Homo sapiens: one gene and its partners. The protein of the gene in region 2 purifies or fractionates together with the protein of the main gene of each other region. This does not show direct contact. Each region holds a gene or a part of one and is shown on either strand. Other genes may lie near its edges. The genes, in order: MYO10, ENAH, SEPTIN7 and KIF2C.

What was found.
Region 1: the proteins of ENAH (region 2) and MYO10 purify together in Homo sapiens (co-immunoprecipitation; one study listed by IntAct). This does not show direct contact.
Region 3: the proteins of ENAH (region 2) and SEPTIN7 fractionate together in Homo sapiens (co-fractionation; one large-scale study listed by BioGRID). This does not show direct contact.
Region 4: the proteins of ENAH (region 2) and KIF2C purify together in Homo sapiens (co-immunoprecipitation; one large-scale study listed by IntAct). This does not show direct contact.

Annotation. Positions count from the first base shown.
Region 1 is NC_000005.10:16,928,392-16,934,318, forward strand, and holds part of MYO10 (unconventional myosin-X), read right to left. Parts: intron 1-5,927. UniProt on the Homo sapiens protein: Myosins are actin-based motor molecules with ATPase activity. Unconventional myosins serve in intracellular movements. MYO10 binds to actin filaments and actin bundles and functions as a plus end-directed motor.
Region 2 is NC_000001.11:225,641,627-225,647,553, reverse strand, and holds part of ENAH (protein enabled homolog), read left to right. Parts: intron 1-5,927. UniProt on the Homo sapiens protein: Ena/VASP proteins are actin-associated proteins involved in a range of processes dependent on cytoskeleton remodeling and cell polarity such as axon guidance and lamellipodial and filopodial dynamics in migrating cells.
Region 3 is NC_000007.14:35,879,795-35,885,721, forward strand, and holds part of SEPTIN7 (septin-7), read left to right. Parts: intron 1-28; coding exon 29-146; intron 147-2,689; coding exon 2,690-2,782; intron 2,783-4,096; coding exon 4,097-4,193; intron 4,194-5,927.
Region 4 is NC_000001.11:44,742,030-44,747,956, forward strand, and holds part of KIF2C (kinesin-like protein KIF2C), read left to right. Parts: intron 1-4,364; exon of another isoform or gene 4,365-4,727; coding exon of another isoform or gene 4,728-4,730; intron 4,731-5,354; coding exon 5,355-5,456; intron 5,457-5,622; coding exon 5,623-5,671; intron 5,672-5,927. UniProt on the Homo sapiens protein: In complex with KIF18B, constitutes the major microtubule plus-end depolymerizing activity in mitotic cells. Regulates the turnover of microtubules at the kinetochore and functions in chromosome segregation during mitosis.

The DNA of each region.
Region 1 (5,927 bases), on a different chromosome or scaffold from region 2:
CTATGTTGCCCAGGCTGGTCTCGAACTCCTGACCTCAGGTATCCACCTGCCTCGGCCTCCCAAAGTGCTGGGATTACAGGCATGAGCACATGGCCCTAAGTGCTTTAGTATGTAAACCTTCCTACTATCCTCATGAAGTTGGGACAACCAGCTTTAGAAACCACACTTTATGGGCCGGGCATGACGGCTCACACCTGTAATCCCAGCACTTTGGGAGGCTGTGACGGGTGGATCACAAGGTCTGGAAATCGAGACCATTCTGGCCAACAAGGTGAAACCCCATCTCTACTAAAAATATCAAAAATTAGCCGGGTGTGGTGGCAGGCGCCTGTAGTCCCAGCTACTTGGGAGGCTAAGGCAGGAGAATCGCTTGAACCTGGGAGGTGGAGGTTGCAGTGAGCCGAGATCACACCATTGCACTCCAGCCTGGGCGACAGAGCAAGACTCCATCTCAAAAAACAACAACAACAACAAAAACACACACACACATTTTTAGAAGGAAACAGAAGGCGCTTGGCTTTCCCAAAAAAAGCAAATCAAATAAAAATTAGTGGCATGTTTTTTTTTTGGTTTTTTTTTGAGACGGAGTCTTGCTCTGTCGCCCAGGCTGGAGTGCAGTGGCGCGATCTCAGCTCACTGCAAGCTCCGCCTCCTGGGTTCACGCCCTTCTCCTGCCTCAGCCTCCCGAGTAGCTGGGACTACAGGTGCCCGCCACCATGCCCGGCTCATTTTTTGTATTTTTAGTAGAGATGGGGGTTTCACCGTGTTAGCCAGGATGGTCTCCATCTCCTGACCTCGTGATCCGCCCACCTCGGCCTCCCAAAGTGCTGGGATTACAGGCATGAGCCACTGCACCCGGCCAAATCAGTGGCATGTTCAAAAGCTGATGAACATTTTCCTGCGGAGTTTTCAACATTTCTAGGGTGTGGACTACTTGTTTTCCTAAACTCCCATGCAGTTTTCCACTTGAAAATCATTTAATAACTGCCCACTTTTAGGGCATTTCATCAGAGAGCCTAGAGAAGATGACGCAAGTTTAAGGCAAAGGACATCAACAGGACAGAAAAGCATGGCAGTGAAGAACTCTCTGTGGCTCTGGACACAGCCTGTCTGGGTTCAAATCCTGGCTATCGTTTTCTAGCTGTGTGACACTGAGTCAGTTACTTAACCTCTCTGTGCCTCACTTTCTTCATCTATGGATTGGGTATAATTATAGAGCCTTTCCCATAGGGTTGTTCAAGGGATTAAATGAGTCACTAAATGTGAAGTGCCAGCAACATGCCTGGCACATGGTAAGTACAGTTGTCCCTATGTATCTATAGGGAACTGGTTCCAAGACCTTCCCCAGATACCAAAATCCATGGGGAAAAGTCTACATGTTCAGTACAGATGCAATTTTTTTCTTGAATATTTTCAATCAGAGGTTGGTTGAATCCAGAGATGCAGAACCCACAGATACTGAGTACAGGGCTGACTGTACTCAAGAAACACTAGCCATATTTATTATTGTCTTCAAAGAACTGTAAGATACTTCATAATCAAGGGAAAAAGTTAGAAGCATCTCCCCTTCCCGCCATAAAATAATCTGAAAATAACCATTATGCAAGGATTGAATCTCAACCATGAGGACATTTCAATGCCAAGGAAGTGATGAAACTTACTTACAAATAAGATATTTAACCTCGCAAGGCTGTTTACTCATTTGAAAAGGGGAGAGGGTTTGTAAAGCATGTAAAGCCTCTAGCTAACAGCAGTAAATCCCTCCTAACAAGACCAAGACAGAAAGAGAGCCAGGTTTAGAGGTAAGAGAATAGAGGTCACCGTGAACTAGACCTGTTAGAGACGGTTTCAAAAAGGAGCCAGACAGGTGGGACATTCGATAGACAGAGAGGCCTGCCTGCACAAAGGATGGAGTGGAACTGGGTAACAGATCCTCTGGTGTAGGATCACGTGCGAGAAAAGAATAAAGAGAGAGTTACAAGATCAGAAAACCTTGAAAACCAGACTGAGGAATGTGGACTTAATTTTATAAGCAATAAGAACATGCTTTAGACAGAGTTCTGGAAATACAAAATCTGCCAGAAATGTACAGGCTGAAAAAGAGAAAACAAATAAATGCAACGCACCACAGGAAGCTACCTCAGAACAAAAAGCTCTAAGGTCGAGATTTCCCTGCACCAGGAGTACTGACATTCCATTCACCAAGGGCCACTGGTTCTTAATTTCAAAGTACAGTTACTGTGACCAAGCCTTTGTTATTACTCACCTACTATGTGCCAAGGGCTCTGTAAGTCCTCTCTCAAATTCGGCTGATAACCATGCAAACTAGGAACTATTACGCCCATTTACAGACCAGAGAGCTCAAGTTCAGGATTTAGAGCATCTGGCTGAGATCCCATCGGAGGGAGCCAAGCGCTACTGCTAAGATAGGATGCTCTGCACTCAGCCTGGGGGCAGTTAGGCAAGGGGAAACGCTTAATCCAGACTTCACCGGAGGCTCATTCTTGAACGTCCCCTACTAGCTAGTGACATGAAAATGTTACGTAGCAGTTACTCTAAGTCCAAACTGTTGAAACTCATGAATAATAAGGTACTCCCGGCTGGGCATGGTGGCTCATGCCTGTAATCCCAGCACTTTGGGAAGCCAAGGCAGGCGGATCACCTGAGGTCGGGAGTTCGAGACCAGCCTGACCAACATGGAGAAACCCCATCTCTCCTAAAAATACAAAATTAGCTGGGTGTGGTGGTGCATGTTTGTAATCCCAGCTACTCGGGAGGCTGAGGCAGGAGAATCGCTTGAACCCGGGAGGCGGAGGTTGTGGTGAGCCGAGATCGCACCATTGCTCTCCAGCCTGGGCAACAAGAGCAAAATTCCATCTCAAAACAATAATAATAATAATAGTAATAATAATAAGATACTCCATGTCCTACCAATCACAACAGCAGGAGAGCACATTCAAGGTTTACATCCTCAAATGTGAGCCCACTTAAAGCCAGCTGAACTGGAAAAGCAAACACTCTGCTCTCTCCCTCCACCACTCTGGTTAAACAGTGAGGGACCTGCCCATGCCAGCTTGTTCCTGGTTTGTGCTTGATTTTGCAGGAACAGCCGGCCACATGATATGGAGTGAGGAAGCAGTCCTACCCTGCCCGCCCCAGCCAGACAGCTTATTGCTCCTGCTGCAACAACTGTCCCACTGCAGCTGCTCCCCCTGGCTTTGCTGTCCCCAACATAGCAGGGGGAAAAAAAAAATGAGTACTTGACAATAGAAATGTTTTCAAACTACAGAGAAGAGGCAACACGCTATATCTCCATTGTGAGAAAAGGGAAAGGGACCCAGCTAATCTCCTGATATGATTTTATAGTCATCAAAGGGGTTGCCTTCAGGAATTGGTGATACAAGAAGTCCTCAGCAGTTCCCCTTTACACATGGAGACATATCGAGGGTGAGGAGAGAAAGCTGCCAAAAATAACAATGTCCACATTTTTCTCTAACAAGAAAAGATGTCAATAGATCACAAACAAAAAAAATATACAACCAAATGGGGAGAAAATTGGCTTGGGAACTCTACTCACTTAAAAAGCTATTTGAACAACTCCAGATAACCAACCACAACCACAGTCCCTTGTCAAGTTAAGTAGAAGAGGTTGGTGTTTCCACTTAACGTCTTTAGAATGAAGTCTGCTCTAATCCAGAGTGAACCAGACTGGAAGAAACAGGTATGTCTGGAATATTTTCCACTAACAATTTATCCCTTAAACATTAATACCTGCTTTCTGTATTTGTATTTGTGAGTATCTTACTTGTGTACATTTTACATATTTATTCTGAAAATCAAGGTGTTTGATTAGTCTCACTAATAATCCTCCGAGATCTTGTATTTGAACAGACACATCACACCTCTGCCTAACAGGGAAACAGAAAGGTCAATTTCATTTGGTACTTACTGGCCCCTACTATATTCCAGGCACTGTACTTGGCCCTGAAGACATGAAAACAGTGTCCACTTCAGCACATCAACACAAGTTTGCACAGTAGCCTTGCCCCTTTCCTGGTTGAGCCTTTTCTGTTTGCTTTTTTTATTATTATTGCTTCTGGTTACAGACACATCTAAACTTAGTTTCTGGCTGAAGTAAACTTAACAACTTACTTAGAAATGCTGAAAAAACAAGCTTCCCCAAAGCATACACACAATTAACTCGAGGGGAGCCATAAAATTCTAATGAAGGCCATGAAGAAACTGAAACTGAGGAATGTGGCATGCTCAGTTTCTCTAATCCTGGAGAACATTTTGAAGTCAGCAGCTGTCAGCTGACTGGCACAAGCTTTGCAAGCTTCCCCCTGGCGCGCAGTAAGACACTATCTATCTAATTAATCAATCAATCTAGCAGGCAGTAAGAGTCTATCTATTTTGTGACACAGGGTCTGTTGCTCTGGAGCGCAGCGGTGCAATCATGGTTCACTGCAGCCTGGACCTCCTGGGCTCACCTCAGCCTCCAGAATGGCTGGAACTACAGGTGCATACCACCACACTCAGCTAAGTTTTGTAGAGATGAGGTTTCACCATGTTGCCCCGGCTGGTCTTGAACTCCTGGGCTCAAGCAGTCCTCCCACCTCAGCCTCCCAAAGTGCTGGGATTACAGGCTTGAGCCACCGCACCCGGCCAAATCCTATTTAAAACAGGGAAGCGCAGACAAGGCTGTGCCTGCAACACAAATAGGAATTAATACCGCCAAACAACTGCTTCACAGGTCTAGCTCAGTGGATCTCAACTGGGAGTGATTTTGCTCCCCTGTCATTCAGCAATGTCTGCAGACCTTTCGGGTTGTCACAACTTGGGGGATAGGGTTAACAATTACTGAGTAGAGTCCAGGGATGCGTTTAACCTCCTACAACACACAGGACGGCCTCCAACAACAAAGAATTACTCAGCAATGGTACCAGGTTTGAGAAACCCTGGTCTAGCTAGAAATAGCAGTTGCGAATCACAAGCAGCTCCCATTTCCTTATTATTTGGCCATTCATACACAAAGCTAAACAGGCAACATCTCATTCAGTAATTTTTCCCCAATTGTTAGCACTGGCTTTAAACTGTTGTCCAACAAGCAACAAGTCATTTACCCCTAAGCCACAATGGGAAAAGTTAGCAAAGACAGAATTCTACTTAGTGATAAGGAGGCCAAACAATTTAGCTGTCCTTGGGGAATATATCACTTCCACACTCGCTGTTTCTATTCTAACAGGACATTAATTACAGCATTTTCTTCACTGGACAATTTAACAAAAGGATGCTCCATTACAAGACATGAGAGAGAGAAAGGGGAGCTGGGATCTATGTTAAGAGTATGTCTACAATTAATACCTCACTATTTAACCTCTCTGACTGGCCCTGCTTCCTTCCCACTCAAAGTGATTAGATTTAAGGGTGGAACTTTCACGGCTGATTAGAAGTTAATATTGTAATACACATACATCACAAGATTAAAAGTATAACCTTAAAATAAGCGAAAAGTTCCCAGAAATACCAAAGTCACCAGCAGCAAAGGAAAAAGGCTCTGGATTCGTGAACAAGCTCTTCAAAGCTGGGCAAGGGACTTACTCATATCTTTGGGTTAAGATTCTGTCTACAAAATGAAGAGGAGAAAGTAGAAGATCACTAATGGCCAACTGCAAAATAATATTGATCACAGAAATAAAATCCAACAACCAGGCCCCTTACACTGAACTAAGGTATCCAGTGCAAGATGAAAAGAGTACTTTGAAAAGTCAAAGTCTCACCGGGTAACAGGAGATCAGGACGCTGTAGCGCGTTATCCTGATGTTCCCCCCACTTGCACTAGGGGGCAGAGTTCTCCCCAAGGGGGAGCCACGGACCCCTGTGGTGCTCAGACAGGCTACAGGAGGAGTGAGATCCGTGCAAACTGA
Region 2 (5,927 bases):
TTTGTAGAGATGTGGTCTTGCTATGTGGACCAGGCAGGTTTTGAACTCACCTGGCCAGAATTTATTTCTTATTCTAACACAGAGCTTGGAAGTGGCTACAAGTGTCAGGATTGTCTAAATTCTAAGCCCTTTGGAGGATACCATGTTTACTTGACTTTATGATTAAATTCTGAATTACTGAAAGGGCCATCAATCTGTTTTTAAGTCTCTTTGACCAAAGAACTTGTAAATATTTTCAAGTAACAAGCATATGCATCTCTATTGGTTTAATTTATTTTTACCCCATTTAGTGCTTGCTTTGTTTTGATTCTTTTTTTGTTTTTGTTTTTTGAGATGGAGTCTCACTCTTGCCCAGGCTGGAGTGCAGTGGCATGATCTCCACTCACTGCAGCTTCCGCCTCCTGGGTTCAAGCAATTCTCTAGCCTCAGCCTCCCGAGTAGCTGAGACTACAGGCGCGTGCCACCACGCCCAGCTAATTTTTTGTATTTTTAGTAGAGATGGGGTTTCAACATGTTAGCCAGGATGGTCTTGATCTCCTGACCTCGTGATGCGCCCACCTCAGCCTCCCAAAGTGCTGGGATTATAGGCGTGAGTCACCGCCCCCAGCCCTGCTTTGTTTTGATTCTTATCAGTGCTTCAAATACCAATCACTGGGTAGTGTATGATACTCTTGAAGTATTAGTGTGGGCTGCCATAACAAAATACCATAGACTGGGTGGCTTAAACAACAGAAAATTATTTTTTATTTTTATTTATTAATTTTTTTGAGACAGTCTCACTGTGTCGCCCAGGCTGGATTGCAGCGGCTCGATCTCAGGTTACTGCAAGCTCTGCCTCCCGGGTTCACACCATTCTCCTGCCTCAGCCTCCTGAGCAGGTGGGACCACAGGCGCCTGCCACCACGCCTGGCTAATTTTTTTGTATTTTTTAGTTGAGATGGGGTTTCACTGTGTTAGCCAGGATGGTCTTGATCTCCTGACCTCGTGGGATTACAGGTGGGAGCCACAGCGCCCGGCCTAGACATTTATTTTAAGGTTCTGGAGGCTGGAAGTCAGAGATCAGGTTGCCAGTATGGATGGGTTTTGGTGAGGGTTCTCTTCCTGGCTTGCAGAAGATATCCTTCTCTCTGTGTCCTCACATGGTAGGGTGGGTATGGGAATCCTGGGGTCGGGGAGATGAGGGGGGATTTCTCTCTCCTCCTCATTTCATAAGGCCATTAATCCTATTGAATTAGGGCCCTGTGCTTATAACTTAATTTAACATTAGTTACCTCCTAAAAGCCCTTTTTCCAAATAGAGTCACATTGAGGGTTAGGGTATTAACATATAAATTTTAGGGGAACACAGTTCAGTCTATAGCAGAAGATAACTACATTTTTTTTTTTTGTCAGTGCATACAACTTTGGAAGAAAATAATTTGTTTAATATTTAGGTGAACTTTAGATAAGTTTTGTTTTAAGTAACCAGAAGTTGTTTACTAAAGAAGATAAATTAGGGGGGTTGATTGATTTATACAAGATATCCGTTAAATTTTCTAGAAATCTCTTTACACTGGGAACCTTCTATTTTACAATGATTAAAGTAAGTTTTATTAACAGGCAACTTTTCCAAAGACTACTTTGGGTATGAGGCAATGTATGTATATCTAAGTGTAGAGATTGAATGGTGTAGGGTAAAGAGGACAGGCTTTGAAGTTAACTCTGGGTTTGACTCTAGTTTGACATTTACTAAATAATTTATTTTTGAGTGGGTTATAAACATTTTTTGGGATCGAATATACTTTGTGAATTATAGAGCTGTTGAGAAAATTAAATAAAATTCTGGCATAACACTTGGCACACAAAATGAGCTTGATAAGAGTAAATCCCCCACTTTTATGAAAGTCTGACATCTCTTAAGTTTATGTTAAGAATGTGAAAAACCATGTAAGATGGTGCAGCTGCTTTAGAAAACAGTTTGGCAGTTCCTCAAAAGTTAAACATAGAGTTATCGTATGACCCAGCAATTCCTTTCCTAGAAATGAAAACATTTGTCCACAGAAAAACTTGTACACAAATGTCTATAGTATCGTTATTCATAACAGCCAAAAAGCAGAAATAACCCAGGTGTGTCTGATTTCATGAATAGATCATCAAAATGTGGTATGTCCATACAACAGAATAATATTTGGCCATCAAAAGGAATGGAATTCTGATACATGCCACAGCGTAGATGGAAGCATTATGCTAAGTGAAATAAGCCAGACACAAAAGGCGATATATGCCATGATTCCATTTATATGAAATGCCCAGAATAGACAGATCTATATAATAACACCAGAAGATCTCATTTGCTTTTTACGTGAGTTGTTTCTGACATTTTTATTACTTTGGATTAATATTTTGAATTGACATCTTCGTGCTATTTAAAGAAGAGAGATTGAAGATAGAACCACTGGACATTTCTCTGTAGGGAAACAAGCACGTGGGAATGCTGAGGTGGAAACCTTGGTAGTGGTGGCTTTGAAAGGCCTGAACAAATTTTGGAGCTGTATCTTCGTGCTAAGGAGACAGCCAGCCATCTCTTTGGTAGGCCTGTTGTAAGTAAGGATGACTAAAGTCACCAGTAAAATGTGATGAAGCAAATCCATCAGAATCTTCAGAAAACTTAAATCTGGGTGGTGATTTTCTGGGGTTTGTTTACAGTAGTCTCAAATACCAAAAGTTTTGTCTTTGGGGAATGAGGTAATCATGATATTTTTAAATAAACTGAGCCCTTTTCCAGTGGTAAAGGCCTTATAGAACATCTGGTCTTGGTAAGAATACATCTGATGATGTGAAATCAAAATGACTACCTTTAACTGTGCCTTAGAGGTCCTCAGTCTTCTGTCCTTTTTGGTATCTGTTACATTTGCAACTTGGCAGCGGGGGAGCTTTATGAAGAACCAAGAACTTAAGTAAAATAAAATGAATAGCTCTTGAGGTCAAATCTCAAGGGAGTCCAAATTGCTCCTTTTACAGTTCAGTGAAGGGATCTTTTTATGCAGTCTTAATAATTATTATATACTGGTTATTTGAATATCTGCTTTGTTCTGCAGTCTTTCTCCTCCTCCCCCAAATTCTCATGTTAGACTGATATTGCAAGCAAAATTGTGACCGTTCAGTTTTTAACAATTTAAGATTTATGTATCTTAAGTTTTCATTTAAAACTTTTACTTACAGTCTACTTAATTGTGGTCTTTGCACAATTTTTTTAGAATTATTTTTAGAAAAATAAATCAATTACTGTTGTCCATATGTCTGGTCAGTATTTTTTTAAATTACTTTTTTCCTTCCATTGTAAAGTAGTACAGATTTTGAACAGATTTTAGAAGGTATGGAAAGTATAAAACATTTATTTATGAAATGTTAAATCCAAGCCATCTAGTATTTTAATATTTTAATGTGTAGATTTCTAAACTTTTTGTAGTGCATTTGCAGCATTGCAGATCATTGTGCGTGTGCATATGATTATATATAAAAGTAAGATTATACTATTTAAAAATGGAATTATACTATATTTGTATTGTGTATTTTGTAGCTTGTCCCTTTCCATATATATAATATCTATACTTTTTACATTTTATTATTTTTATTTTTTAAATAGGGTCTTAAACTGTCACCCAGGCTGGAGTGCAGTGGTGCAATCATAGCTTACTGCAGCCTCGAACTCCTGGGCTCAAGCGATCCTCCCATCTCAGCCTCCTGAGTAGCTGAGACTACAGATGTGCGCCACCACACCCTCTAATTGTTAAGATTTTTGTGCAGAGACAAGGTCTCGCTATGTTGCCCAGGCTGGTCTTGAACTCCTGGCCTCAAGTCATCCTCCCACTTCAGCCTCCCAAAGCACTCGGATTACAGGCATGAGCTGCTGTGTCCAGCCAGTAATTCTTGTTCCTAACTATATAGCTACATAACTTTAAGTGACTGCATAATATTCCATTGCTTTGGATGGATGACTTTGTCTACTTAAATCTTAAAGATGGACTTTTAGATTTGTTCCATTATTTTTGTTATTATAAAAAACACTGCTGTGAACATCTTTGGTTATATGTCTTTGTGTACATATCTGATACTGTTTTAGGATACATTCCTAGAAGTAAAATCAAGAAGTAGTGCTGTGTTTTGTTTTTTTTTTTATTTTTTGTTTCTTTACCTTTCTGTATCCAGTCTATCATTGTCCTACCAGGTCACCTTCACTTGCTTCTGTCCATCTCACTGCCTCAAGTCCAGGCCACTGTTATCTCTTACCTGAACTATTAGTGTTTCCTCATTTCCATTCATGTCCCCTGTTCTTCATGCATCACTCAGAATACTCTTAAAGTGGAAATCAGATATTGTTATTTCCCATGTAAAGCCTTCAGCGGCATCTTAGACTAAAACCCAAATTTGTCATAAAACCAAAATTATTAAGGTCTTGCGTGACCTGGCTCTGCATTCCAAGTTCCCAGCACAGGCCTCTGTGAGTATGCATAAGTATTTGAGTGAATAATAAACAAAATGACTAAAGGGAGTTGTATCAGTTTTTGATACACGTTACCAGATAAGCAAGAGTAGATGAGATTTCTAGTTACCCCACATTCTGGCCAGCTCAGGCCATTATCGGTCTTTTAATCTTTGCCAATGTGATAGGTAAAAGGTGTTACCTCATTGGTTTAATTTGTATTTCTTTGATTACCTGTAGGGTCTCTTTGTTTGTTTATTGGACAGCTTTATTTTTGTGTGGATGTCTGTTCATGTGCTTTTTCTGTTTTCCCAATGAGATGTGTAGTTTTTCTTCTAATGATTTATAATAATGAGGATATTAACTCTTCATAGTGCATATACATATATCGTATCCGATATTACTGCTGTTTAACAAAGCATCTCAAAGCCTAGTAAAGCTGTTACCCGGGCTGGAGTGCAGTGGTACAATCATAGCTTACTGCAACCTCGAACTCCTGGGCTCAAGTGATCCTCCCACCTCAGCTTCCTGAGTAGCTGAGACTGCAGATGTGCTACGGATTGGCTGGGCAGCTCTTCTTACCTGGACTCATTCGTGTGTTTTCCTTCACTTAGGTTCATCTGGTGTGTCTATCCCATCCCTCTGCCTCATCGCTCACTTAACAATAGCAGCCTCCTCATGACAACATGCCCTAGTATGAAAGCTCTTACCAGACCTCAGCTTGCATCCTGTTTGCTTATGTTTCTTTGGCCAAAACAAGTCATATGGTCAAGCCCAAAGTCAGTGGGGGAGGTGATTACACAAGGACAGATCAAGAGGTGCGATTCATTGGTGGTCATAATGTAAACTTTACTATATGTATCTTCTTTTTTTTTTTTTTTTTCCTGAGATGGAGTCTCACTCTTTCTCACCCAGGCTGGAGTGTGTGCAGTCATGCGATTTCGGCTCACTGCAACCTCTGCCTCCTGGGTTCAAACAGTCCTCCCATTTCAGTCTCCTGAGTAGCTAGGATTACAGGTGTGCGTCACCATGCCTGGCTAATTTTTTTGTATTTGTTCTTATTTTTATTTTTGAGATGGAGTCTTGCTGTGTCCCCCAGGCCGGAGTGCAGTGGTGCAGTCTTGGCTCACTGCAACCTCTGCTTCCCGGGTTCAAGTGATTCTCCTGCCTCAGCCTCCCAAGTAGCTGGAATTACAGATGCACGAGACCACGCCCAGGTAATTTTTGTATTTTTAGTAGAGACAGGGTTTCACCATGTTGGCCGGGCTGGTCTTGAACTCCTGACCTCAGGTGATCTGCCTGCCTCGGCCTCCCAAAGTGCTGGGATTACAGGTGTGAGCCACGGCGTCCAGCTTTTTTTGTGTTTTTAGTAGAGATGGGGTTTCATCATGTTGGCCAGGCTGGTCTCGAACTCCGGACCTCACGTGATCTGCCCGCCTCAGCCTCCTAAAGTGCTAGGATTACAA
Region 3 (5,927 bases), on a different chromosome or scaffold from region 2:
CAGTCAAATTAAATACTGTGTATTTCAGACTTAAACCATTGGATATTGAGTTTATGAAGCGTTTGCATGAAAAAGTGAATATCATCCCACTTATTGCCAAAGCAGACACACTCACACCAGAGGAATGCCAACAGTTTAAAAAACAGGTGAGCAGGATGTGTTAACCCAGGTTTCTTATACCGTTCTCATAATTTGCAGTTTTTACTATTTTTAGTATAATGTGTTGCAATCCATTCCTCTTACTGCTTTACTATATTGTCATTTATACTGTATTAGAAATAACTCTTCAATCTTCTGCCTTTGTCAGTTTTTAAATATGGCTGTTTTAAGTGTTCTGTAATAACACCCCCACACAGACAATTTCTCCCCATACTCTTTAGAATTATTTTCTTTTTTCTTTTCTCTTTTCTTTTCTTTTTTTTTCTTTTCTTTTTTTTTTTTTTTTTTTTGAATTATTTTCTTAGAATGAATTCCCAGGAAGTGGATTATTCTTTCAAAGGCTATGATTGTTTTTATGGGTCTTTATCTCCCCACTCCCCATTTTGTCATGGTGCTTTCCCAATAAAACAAATTTGTACATCTGTTTCACTGTGACTTTGCCAGCATTGTTATTTTTATTTTGAAAACTTTTTTGGAATGAAGTGGTAACCAATCATTTCTTTGTCTTTTCCTTTTATTTTCCCGAAAGGCTGAACATTTTAAAAACAAAGTCATTTTTTTCCCCCTTTTTGTAAACATCTGCTCAAATCCTTTGTCTTTTTGACCAGTAGTACTTGGTATTACCCGTATTTATTGATATGGGTTCTTTTTATTCTGGATATTTAGTTCTCTCTCATTTTCACAATATTTTTTCTGTTTTCTCTTTTGCTGCTTATTTTTGTTTTCAGTGCACTAATTTTGTTTTCAGTGCACTTTACGGGATATTTATAGTTTAAGTTATTGTTCAAACCTATGACCCTAAGATTAAGAGTCTCATGCTGTATGACTGAGCTAGCTGGAAGGCCACTAAACTGTTTTTCTAGACTCACGTCTAGTTGTCTCAATAATATTGAGTTACACAGTCACACATATTTCTAATTTAATTGTGTTTGGTTCGTTATATATTACATTTTATGAAATGTAAGGTCAATTCTGGAACCTTTCTCTATTCCAGTAGTCCAAAGGCCAGTAGTATATTGTTTAAACCACAGCAGCTTTATATAATATTTAAAAGTAGATTGTAATTATCTCTATTGTCCATATAGTCCTATTGTAACAAAATACTTTGTTTTTCACCTTTTTCAATATGAATTTCAGAATACCTTGAAACCTGTTATAAAAAGCCTGTTAAAATTTGCTTTGAAGTTGTGCTAAATTCATACTAATTTTCAGAAAGTTTTAGTACATTGTTTTTACTGTATCTAGTATTTTTGTGTTTTACACTTACCCATTCCCATTTTTGTTTTGTAATGTGCTATTTCTAAGTTTCAAACACTATCATATAATACATTTCTTTTTGTTTATTATGTGTTTCGATTTGGATTTTTACTGATAAAGGTAAAAAAGATGAATATGAAGTGACCTCTTCTTTCAAATTGGTCACATCCTGGTGGTTGTACTCAGGTCATTTTAATATACAACCTCTGACTAAAACCATTGCTTTTAGAGCTAGCTACTATTACTCATTTTTCTCGTCATCATGTATTTGTCAATTCCTTGTTTATTCTTTTTTTTTTTTTAAATATAGGTACGTACCCTAATTGTAAAAGAAGTGTGGTCCTATTTTTTTTCAGTGACAATTTTACTTCTGTTTACTTCTGTCTACTATAGTAACCATGTAACACAATTTGTTCAGGGTCCTTTTATAGCTGCTGGGAACCTTTGCCAAGAAAGTTGCACCAAAATATAAGTATAGACAGGGAAGCTAGGTTTAGGTATATTAGCCATTGGTTTGTTATGGGTTCAAATAAGGATAGGTAGTTGAAAATTATTTGGATGTCTGTATTCTGTTTAGAATTGGAGTGATTTTGAACATGATAATTTAATTTGAACTAGGTCATTTCTGATGTTAATAATAAGTTGTCTTCTCTAGGTTTCTGCATTCTCCTTATTAATTCTTGAGCTTCTTAATTTCTAGGATGTGTTTTCTCCCTGTGTCCTTCCCTAATCTTACACCTGTTGCTCCTCAATTTGTGTGTATGCACATGTACATGTAAGGATTTTTCTGATGAATGTTCAGGGAGCAGTGCTGTACTTAGTTTTACCTTACTTTTGCCAGATTCTACTAAAAATTTTACGTGAGTTTAGCCCTGTTTATTCAACTAAATAAGATACTTGGGAATTTATATCTAAAGGAAGAATCTCAGTCATTGTAAATAAATGACCTAAAGTCATTATTGTGGAAATCAATCAGAGAAATCCCTTTCTGGAGTTTTACATCCTTTTTGGAACTCTTTTGGTATGACAGCTATATGACTTTAACACTTCGGAAGTAATTGGATTTGGTGTTTATATATCAACTTCATAGTTAAAAAAAAAAAAAAGACTAGCGTAGTACTTTAATTTTAGATTACAACTTTGCATCATTAAAAAACAGTAAAGGATCTGGAACCAAGGACCCATATAGGAATCGAAGAGGCATGTAATGAACATAAGACTAATATACTAATTATGTATGGTGCTCTTTTGCTGACTACTTCTTCCATTTTAGATAATGAAAGAAATCCAAGAACATAAAATTAAAATATACGAATTTCCAGAAACAGATGATGAAGAAGAAAATAAACTTGTTAAAAAGATAAAGGTAGGTTCATCCCTGTACACACGCTAAAGTAATCTGAGGCCTTAAAAACATACTACAGCGTCCACAGGAAAGATCAAAAGTATCAGTGTTTTAAGTAGTTGGCTTACAAAATACCTAGGGAGATTTAATGTTGAATTCAACTTTATAGTTAACTTTGAAGATTAGCTAGTATATATAATAAGGAATTGTATAAACTACTGAGGTGAATAACACAATTCTTATTTCAAAGTGTTTTTAATTAACTGGCTTTCATATTATGTAATTTTTTTCTCTTAAAAAACAAGTGATGAGAAAGGAGAGAATTCGTTCTGTTATGTTTTAATTGCCAGACAAAAATGTATTTATTTTGTCTCTATAAAAGCCAACCAAAATTACAGCTAGATAGGAGGAGTAAGTTCTAGCGTTCTGTAGCATTGTAGGGTGGCTGTAGTTAACAGTAATTTAGTCTATATTTTCAGATAGCTAGAAGAGGATTATGAATGTTCCCAATACAGAAAAATAAGTTTGAATTGATAAATATGCTAATTACCCTAATTCAATCATTACATATTTGTATAAAGTTATCAGAATACCATACTGTACCCCACAAATGTGTACAATTATGTTTCAATTAAAAACAATAAAAACCAACCAAAAATTCACATCAACATATTTTCTGTATTTTATCATGGTTTTCTATGTACTTTGGCCCTAAAAATGGTATACTGAATAATGGCATTATGTAGGCAAATATCTTGGAATAATGAAATTCTTATACATTGCCTGTGAAGAATTTCTGCAGTTGTAAATAGCTGCTTAGGTATTTCTGGGAGCCACAGAATTGTGAAGGGCTGAACATGGATGAACACAAATCCAGTCACCAGGATTTGAATTTCCAAAGTTAGAGCTTAACAAATATACTATTACCTGGTTTAGGTACTGTTATAGTTGGTTTGTGATCAAGTAGGCAAGCTAGTCATTAGCCCCCCGCTTTTTTTCCCCCAAATGCCAATATAGTTTTTACCTTTTATCCCCCCCCAGGTATGGGACAACTTTCTGTAGTGATTTTTAGTAAATAATTTGACCAGTATATGCTTGAATATTCTTAACATTAAAGAGAAAATTTAATTTTATTTATTGTTTACCTTGGTGGCAATACCATGTGATGGCAGTTTACTAAATATTTGTTAAATGGCCTATAAAAACTAATGCAGAAACTATCGAAAGTAAATTTTTTTTTTTTTTGGCTAACCTGTTGAGTAATGTAACTTTTTTTATTTTTGAATTTGTGAGGACTACAGAGATGTATTTGAACAAGAATACTTTGTTTTATAGGACCGTTTACCTCTTGCTGTGGTAGGTAGTAATACTATCATTGAAGTTAATGGCAAAAGGGTCAGAGGAAGGCAGTATCCTTGGGGTGTTGCTGAAGGTAAGATTTTCTTCAGTGAATGACTTTCTAAAATATCTCAAAACTGATTAAAAATTTGTATTTATAGTAAGTAGTACAGTATGCACACTGTATTGATATAGTCTAGATTTTCAAGGATAATACTGATTTCAGGTTCTTGTAGTCTCAATTTTCTCTTTAAGTACATTGGTATTTTTCAAACCTGTATCCTACCAAGTCAGGCAAGTGTGTGTTAAGTCCTAAAGTTGTAGTATAGGTTGAACATTCTTAAAGAGAAAATTCAAAATGTGAATTGCTCCAAAATAAAACGTTTTGAGCACTGACATGCTGCTCAAAGGAAGCGCTCACTGGAGCATTCTGAATTTTGGATTTTTGGATTAAGGATGCTCGACCAGTAAGTATAGCACAGATATTCCAAAATTCCAAAAAAATTCAAAACACTTCTGGTCCCAAGCATTTCAAATAAGAGATACTCAACTTGCCCCACCCTGGCTGGCATCCTGCCTCATCATTAAGTCTATTTCTGTTTTCATATTTGAAAACATAACTAAAATTGAGGGGTTCTTTACCTGGGGCCCAAAGTTTGCTCCCAGGGAATCTAATGAACCACCTGGAATCAAACATTTGGAGAGAAGGCCAGTCACTTTTATCGGAACGTCAGATGGTCATGGACCCTCAAGAATGATTGAAGAAATTTGTAAGCCCAGTTAAAACATCCACAGTCTTCTTTCCTCAGTGCAAAAGTTGCCCTTTTTGATATCTCATATTTAGAGTAAAAAAATTTCGTTAATAAGAGATCCTCTTTACTAGTTTTGTAAGGAGTTTTTTGTTTTCTTTTTTAACCTGCTATCTTAAATTATTAAGGGTTAAGTAAGGAGTTTTAAATACCAATAAAATCTTAGTTATAACACCAAGCCTCAGAAGTACTTCCTCTTGGCAATAGGTTTATTGTATTGGTTTAATCTGATACTTAATCTTCTGTATTATAGTAAGCTGAAACCAAAATTGAGATTTGATTGTTTTATCTGTTTGTTGCTATTATTTTTGAACTTCGTTTTTTTTTTTAAGAGACAAGGTCTTGCTATGTTGCCCAACTGGCCTCAGAATCCTGAGCTCAAAGTGATCCTCCCACATCATGCTCCTCCCACATCACGTCACTATAAGCACACACCACTGCCCCTGGTTTATTTTGAACAATTCTTTAATTTTTAGGATATTGTTTCAGGTAACTGTCCTTATTGGCAATTTTCCCATCAGTGACCTGTGTACCTTGTTCCCAGCTCTCTCTATCATGCCCAGGCAACTTTTACTTGCTGAGCTGGGGCTTTAGAACTTACCCCTTAAAAATACGCACCGGAGAAATTGATTTGCATCTCTCTTTTGTAGTTTACCCCTCTACTCCCAAGTAATATTCCTATTTGTGATACATTCTTTAAAAATAAAAGTAAAGAACCTGAAAGTTCTTGGCTCCCTTTTTCATTTTGGTTACCTTAAGATTTTTTCTAAAGTGATTCTCCCTTCACTCACACCACTGAATTTTTTAAATGTATTATAGAATAAATATATTTTTTACCAATAATAAGATTTCCCCTTTCAGAATTTCAAAGTTGTTTCTGGAGAGTTCATTTGTTAGGTTTACATATCTATTTCTGAGGATTAAACTACAATAAGGCAATAATAGAGTACACTTCTCTGTCATGCCCTCACATTGAGTGTACTATGTTAGTGTTAAATCTCAAAAAAATTGATCTGTTT
Region 4 (5,927 bases), about 180 Mb from region 2:
CTTCCAGATGCATTGGGATTTTATTTAGTCAGGTCCATTCTAAATTGAAGCAATCAATAATTTTCTGGGTTTTTTTTGTTTGTTTGTTTGTTTGTTTTGAGACAGAGTCTCACTCTGTCACCCAGGCTGGAGTGCAGTGGCGAGATCTCAGCTCACTGCAAGCTCCGCCTCCCGGGTTCACGTCATTCTCCTGCCTCAGCCTCCCGAGTAACTGGTACTACAGGTGCCCGCCACTACGCCCGGCTAATTTTTTGTATTTTTAGTAGAGATGGGGTTTCACTGTGTTAGCCGGGATGGTCTCGATCTCCTGACCTCGTGATCCGCCTGCCTCTGCCTCCCAAAGTGCTGGGATTACAGGCGTGAGCCACCATGCCCGGCTCTGGTATGTTTGTAGAAAGCAAACTGCAGCCAGGCGCAGTGGCTCATGCCTGTAATCCCAGCACTTTGGGAGGCCGAGGTGGGCGGATCACTTGAGATCAGGAGTTTGAGACCAGCCTGGCCAACATAGCGAAACCCCCATCTCTACTAAAAATACAAAAATTAGCTGGGTGTGGTGGCACGGGCCTGTAATCCCAGCTACTTGGGAAGCTGGGGCAGGAGGATCACATGAACCTGGGAGGCAGAGGTTGCAGTGAGCTGAGATCATGCCACTGCACTCCAGCCTGGGCAACAGAGTGAAACTTCGTCTCAAAAAAAAAAAAAAAAAAACAAACTGCACAGAATTTTAGGTTTTAGAAAACTTTGCTTGCCCAAGCTAGGTTCTGCATGCACACTACCTGTGATATCAGTTTGGTGAATGAAATCAATAACCTGGTTGAGGAGACAAAAAGACGTTTCTGAATCACCAACTAACCAACTAACAGAAGACAACTTGTGATGAATGGCACAGATGAGCATTGCTAGAGCAGCTCAGAGGTGGAAACTTGCTGAGAATGGGCTGGGCTTAGAGGGTGGAGTGTGAAGGCTTAGCTGAAGCAGCAAGATGGCACACATGGGGACCATGAAGAAGCTGGCCACGAGCAGTGCAGGGCCCAGGATGCTTGGCAGCCGCAAAACAGCTGAAAAAGGAGACAAAGGTCTTCATGTCTGGCACTGAGCTGGTTAGGTTTTCTTCTGTAGGCAGTGGGGAACCTTGGAAGGATTTTGAGGAGAGCACTGTGACTAAGACATTTCTGTTCTAGTGGCATTGTGGTGTAGTGAAAAGGTCACTGGGCTAGGAGTATGAAAACCTGGATTCTAGTCTGGCTCTGCCACTGCTTTGTGTTCTCAGGCATGTTTCTGCCCCTCTTCGAAGTTTAGTTTCCTCATCTATAAAGTGAGGATGATAATAATGTCTACCTCACAGGGTTGTTGTGAGGATTTACTCAGCACATTTTTTGGACTGCTTCCAAAATGCTAGACACTTATTGGGTGCTAGGGATACAGAGGTGAAGGAGACAGACTCTTGGACTCTCTTCCATGGAGCTTAATAAAATAATACATGTAGCTGGGCACAGTACCTGTAATCTCAGCACTTTGGGAGGCTGAGGCAGGAGGACCTCTTGAGGCCAGGAGTTTGAGTCCATCCTGGGCAAATACAGCAAGACCTCATCTCTACTAAAAATAAAAAACAATTAGCCAGTCATAGTGGCTTGCGCCTGTGGTCCCAGCTACTCCAGAGGCTAAGGCAGGAGGATTGCTTGAGCCCAGGAGTTCAGGGCTACAGTGAGCCACTACACTCCAGCCTGGGTGACAGAGTGAGACCCTGTCTCAAAAACAAATAAATAAAAAAGATAAAACATGTAAAAAGCTTGCTTAGCATAGTACGTATAGTAGAGATATTTAGGTGGTATATTTGAGAAATAAAAGGATTGAATACTTTCCATTATCTGCCCCTAAAGAATTAAGAGGTTCCTAAAATTCCTTTCAACCAGCTATTATCAGTCTTTTGTGATTTGTTTTTGTTGCTTGTTTAGAAATATATCCCTTGTTTTACCTCAGATCAAATACTGCTTTTGGAATAAGATCCGAACTTCTTAGTGGGGCATTCAGAGCCTTTTCAAGCTCTGGTTTTTTTTTTTGTTTGTTTGTTTGTTTTTTGAGACAAAGTCTCACTCTATCGCCAGGCTGGAGTGCAGTGGCACGATCTCCCTCAGTGAGCCGATTTCGGCTCACTACAACCTCCATGCCCCAGGTTCAAGCAATTCTCCTCACTCAGTCTCCCAAGTAGCTGGGATTACAGGCACCTGCCACCACACCCAGCTAATTTTTGTATTTTTAGTAGAGACAGGGTTTCCCCATGTTGACCAGGCTGGTCTCAAACTCCTGACCTCAAGTGATCTGGCCATCTTGGCCTCCTAAAGTGCTGGGATTACAGGCATGAGCCACCACATGTGGCTCAAGCTCTGATTCTAATCACCCTTTTTCTTTGTACCACATACTCTTCTTCCACATATCCTATGCCCTGGCAAATGAGGCAGTTTACTGCTCTGTGACTGCCTAATTCCCTGCTGCCTTTACACTCTTATTCCTTTCTCCTGGGATGTTCACCCTGAATTATCAACATGAGAATCAGTTGATTGTCAGAGCAAGGCTTAAAACTCTGGTTTTCGCGGGTCGTGGTGGCTCACACTTGTAATCCCAGCACTCTGGGAAGCTGAAGCGGGCGGATCATGAGGTCAGGAGTTCAAGACCAGCCTGGCCAATATAGTGAACCTGCATCTCTACTAAAAATCCAAAAACTTAGCCGGATGTGGTGGTGCGCACCTGTAGTCCCAGCTACTCAGGAGGCTGAGGCGGAAGAATCGCTTGAACCCGGGAGGTGGAGGTTGCAGCGAGCTGAGATCGCGCCATTGCACTCCAGCAGCCTGGGCGACAGAGTGAGATTCCGTCTAAAAAAGGCCGGGCGTGGTGGCTCATGCCTGTAATCCCAGCACTTTGGGAGGCTGAGGTGGACGGATCACCTGAGGTCAGGAGCTCAAGACCAGCCTGGCCAACGTGGTAAAACCCTGTCTCTACTAAAAATACAAAATTAGCTGGACATGGTGGCGCATGCCTGTAATCTCAGCTACTCAGGAGGCTGAGGCAGGAGAATCACTTGAACCTGGGAGGCGGAGGTTCCAGTGAGCCGAGATCATGCCACTGCACTCCAGCCTGGGCACCAAGAGTGAAACTCCATCTCAAAAAAAAAAAAAAACCTCTGGTTTTCTTTGTTGTTTATGCTCTCTGTAGTTTAGGGGTTAGAAATGGGGGAGGTATGTACCAAGAGTCTGTGGCTGTCCCAGAAGTGTGGATAGAAGTGTGATTACTGAAGTGCTTGCCAGCTTTTGCATTTAGTGATTCTATCCTCCTTTTTTTTTTTTTATTTAAATCTCATTCTGCTTTGATTTCCTTTGTACATATGACTTATAATCCCCATTAGAAATTGAGCTCATGGTGGCAGGGGTTGTATATGTCTTTTTTTTTTTTTTTTTTTTTTTTTTGAGACAGTGTTTCGCTCTTGTTGCCCAGGCTGGAGTGTGATGGCGCTATCTTGGCTTACTGCAACCTCCGCCTCCCGGGTTCAAGCGATTCTTCTGCCTCAGCCTCCCGAGTAGCTGAGATTACAGGCATGCATCACACCTGGCTAATTTTTTATTTTTAGTAGAGACGGGGTTTTTCCATGTTGGTCAGGCTGGTCTTGAACTCCCGACCTCAGGTGATCTGCCTGTCTCAGCCTCCCAAAGTGCTGGGATTACAGACGTGAGCCACCACGCCCGGCCTATATATGTCTTAATTCATCTTTGACTACCTTCCCCCTGTAGGCTGCTGTCTTCGTGGTGCCTAACAAATGTTTGAATAGGCAGCAAATAACTGCAGATTTCTTTTTTCTTTTTCTTTTTTTTTTGAGACGGAGTCTCGCTGTGTCGCCCAGGCTGGAGTGCAGTGGCGGGATCTCGGCTCACTGCAAGCTCCGCCTCCTGGGTTCACGCCATTCTCCTGCCTCAGGCTCCTGAGTAGCTGGGATTACAGGTGCACGCTGCCACACCCAGCCAACTTTTTGTATTTTAGTAGAGACAGGGGTTTCACCGTGTTGCCCAGGCTGGCCTTGAACTCCTGAGGTCAGGTAATCCGCCCACCTCGGCCTCCCAAAGTGCTGGGGTTACAGGCGTGAGCCACCGCACCCAGTCCTGCAGGTTTCATCTCTAGGCAGTAAAGCCCTCACCCTAGAGTACATGCTTCAGCTCTGTCACATTTTGAAATACAAAGTTGGGACAAATTTAATATGTCTGAACCTGTTGTAAAGCTATCCTGGTGAAGTTTGAGTTGTTCCTGGAGAATTGCAGGACTCTGATGATGTAAACTTAGAATTGTGACCTCATTGCAGGCATCAACAGGAAATAGGTAAGGCATGGGCAGGAAGCCGTAACTGGGGAAGTTTCTGGGCCCAGAAGAAAATGTAGGTAGTCTTAGGGTTAGGTAGCAGCTGTCAGGAACTTGCCCCTGCCCATAAGATCCTAAAGGGCCCCCATTTGACTCTCACCAGACAGTTAGAACTTGTTTCCTCCTCCGTGTCAGCCATCAAGAGGTGCTTGGGGGGCTGTGCCCAGCAGGACCTCACTGCCCAGCAGATCAGCAGGGGAGCCAAGTGGCCTAGATCTGCTGTGGAGTACCCGACTGTTTGCCTGCCTGTCTGCCCTCCTCTTCACCTCATTCTCATCACTGACGTCTACCATTGGCTTGGAAATCAGAAACCCATATCCATCTAGATGGTAAACCATTATTAAGGAGTAACTATTTGTTTTATAGCTATTCATACTTAGTGGAACTTAAAGTTGGTAAAGTTTGAATTTAGGGGTACCCCTGTCTATAGAAATTTAATTTTTTCTATGTTGTTTTTTTGTTTGTTTGTTTGTTTTTTGTTTTTTGAGACAGAGTCTTGCTCTGTTGCCCAGGCTGGAGGGCAGTGGCTCAATCTCAGCTCAATGCAACCTCCGCCTCCTGGATTCCAGCAATTCTCCCGCCTCAGCCTCGGGGGGGCCAGGCACAGTGGCTCACACCTGTAATCCCAGCACTTTAGGAGGCCGAGGTGGGGAGATCACCTGAGGCCAGGAGTTTGAGACCATCCTGGCCAACATGGTGAAACCCTGTCTCTACTGGAAATACAAAAATTAGCTGGGCGTGGTGGCGCATGCCTGTAGTCCCAGCTACTCAGGAGGCTGAGGCAGGAGAATTGCTTGGACCCAGGAGGCAGAGGTTGCATTGAACCAAGATCGCACCACTGCCCTCCAGCCTGGGCGACAGAGCGATACTCTGTCTCAAAAAAAAAAAAAAAGAAAAAATGTATTTGGATTGAACAATGTTGTTTCATTGAAACTTTTACTTGCTCCTTGCAGATTGATTTTGATGATGTGGCTGCAATAAACCCAGAACTCTTACAGCTTCTTCCCTTACATCCGAAGGACAATCTGCCCTTGCAGGAAAATGTAACAATCCAGGTAGGTGCCTGTCATCTGGCTGCAGCCAGTGCGCCAGAGAATTCACTTTGCTTATTGACTCTTTGCTGATTGATTGTCTGGCATTTTAGCATAGTACATGGGCCCAGGATGGGCCCTTGAGAATTGATAAGAGCCATATATTGTGACAATTTGATTTGTTTTTCAGAAACAAAAACGGAGATCCGTCAACTCCAAAATTCCTGCTCCAAAAGAAAGTAAGTGGATTTCTACTAGCTTACTATCATGGAATTTGTGTCAGGAATTATGTTTCTAGGACTCAGAGTTGTGGAAGCTCCTCTTTTGCAGGTGGTTTCTATGTGGGTTGAGTCCTGCCTGTGTTCCAAGCATCTTTCTCTATGAGAAAGAATCCAATCTACAGCTATCAGGCCAACCTTTAAGAGACCTGGTGCATTTAGGAAATTTGCTGCCTGGCCTAGAAACCTTTTCTGTAGAATCCAGAGCCTGATGCTG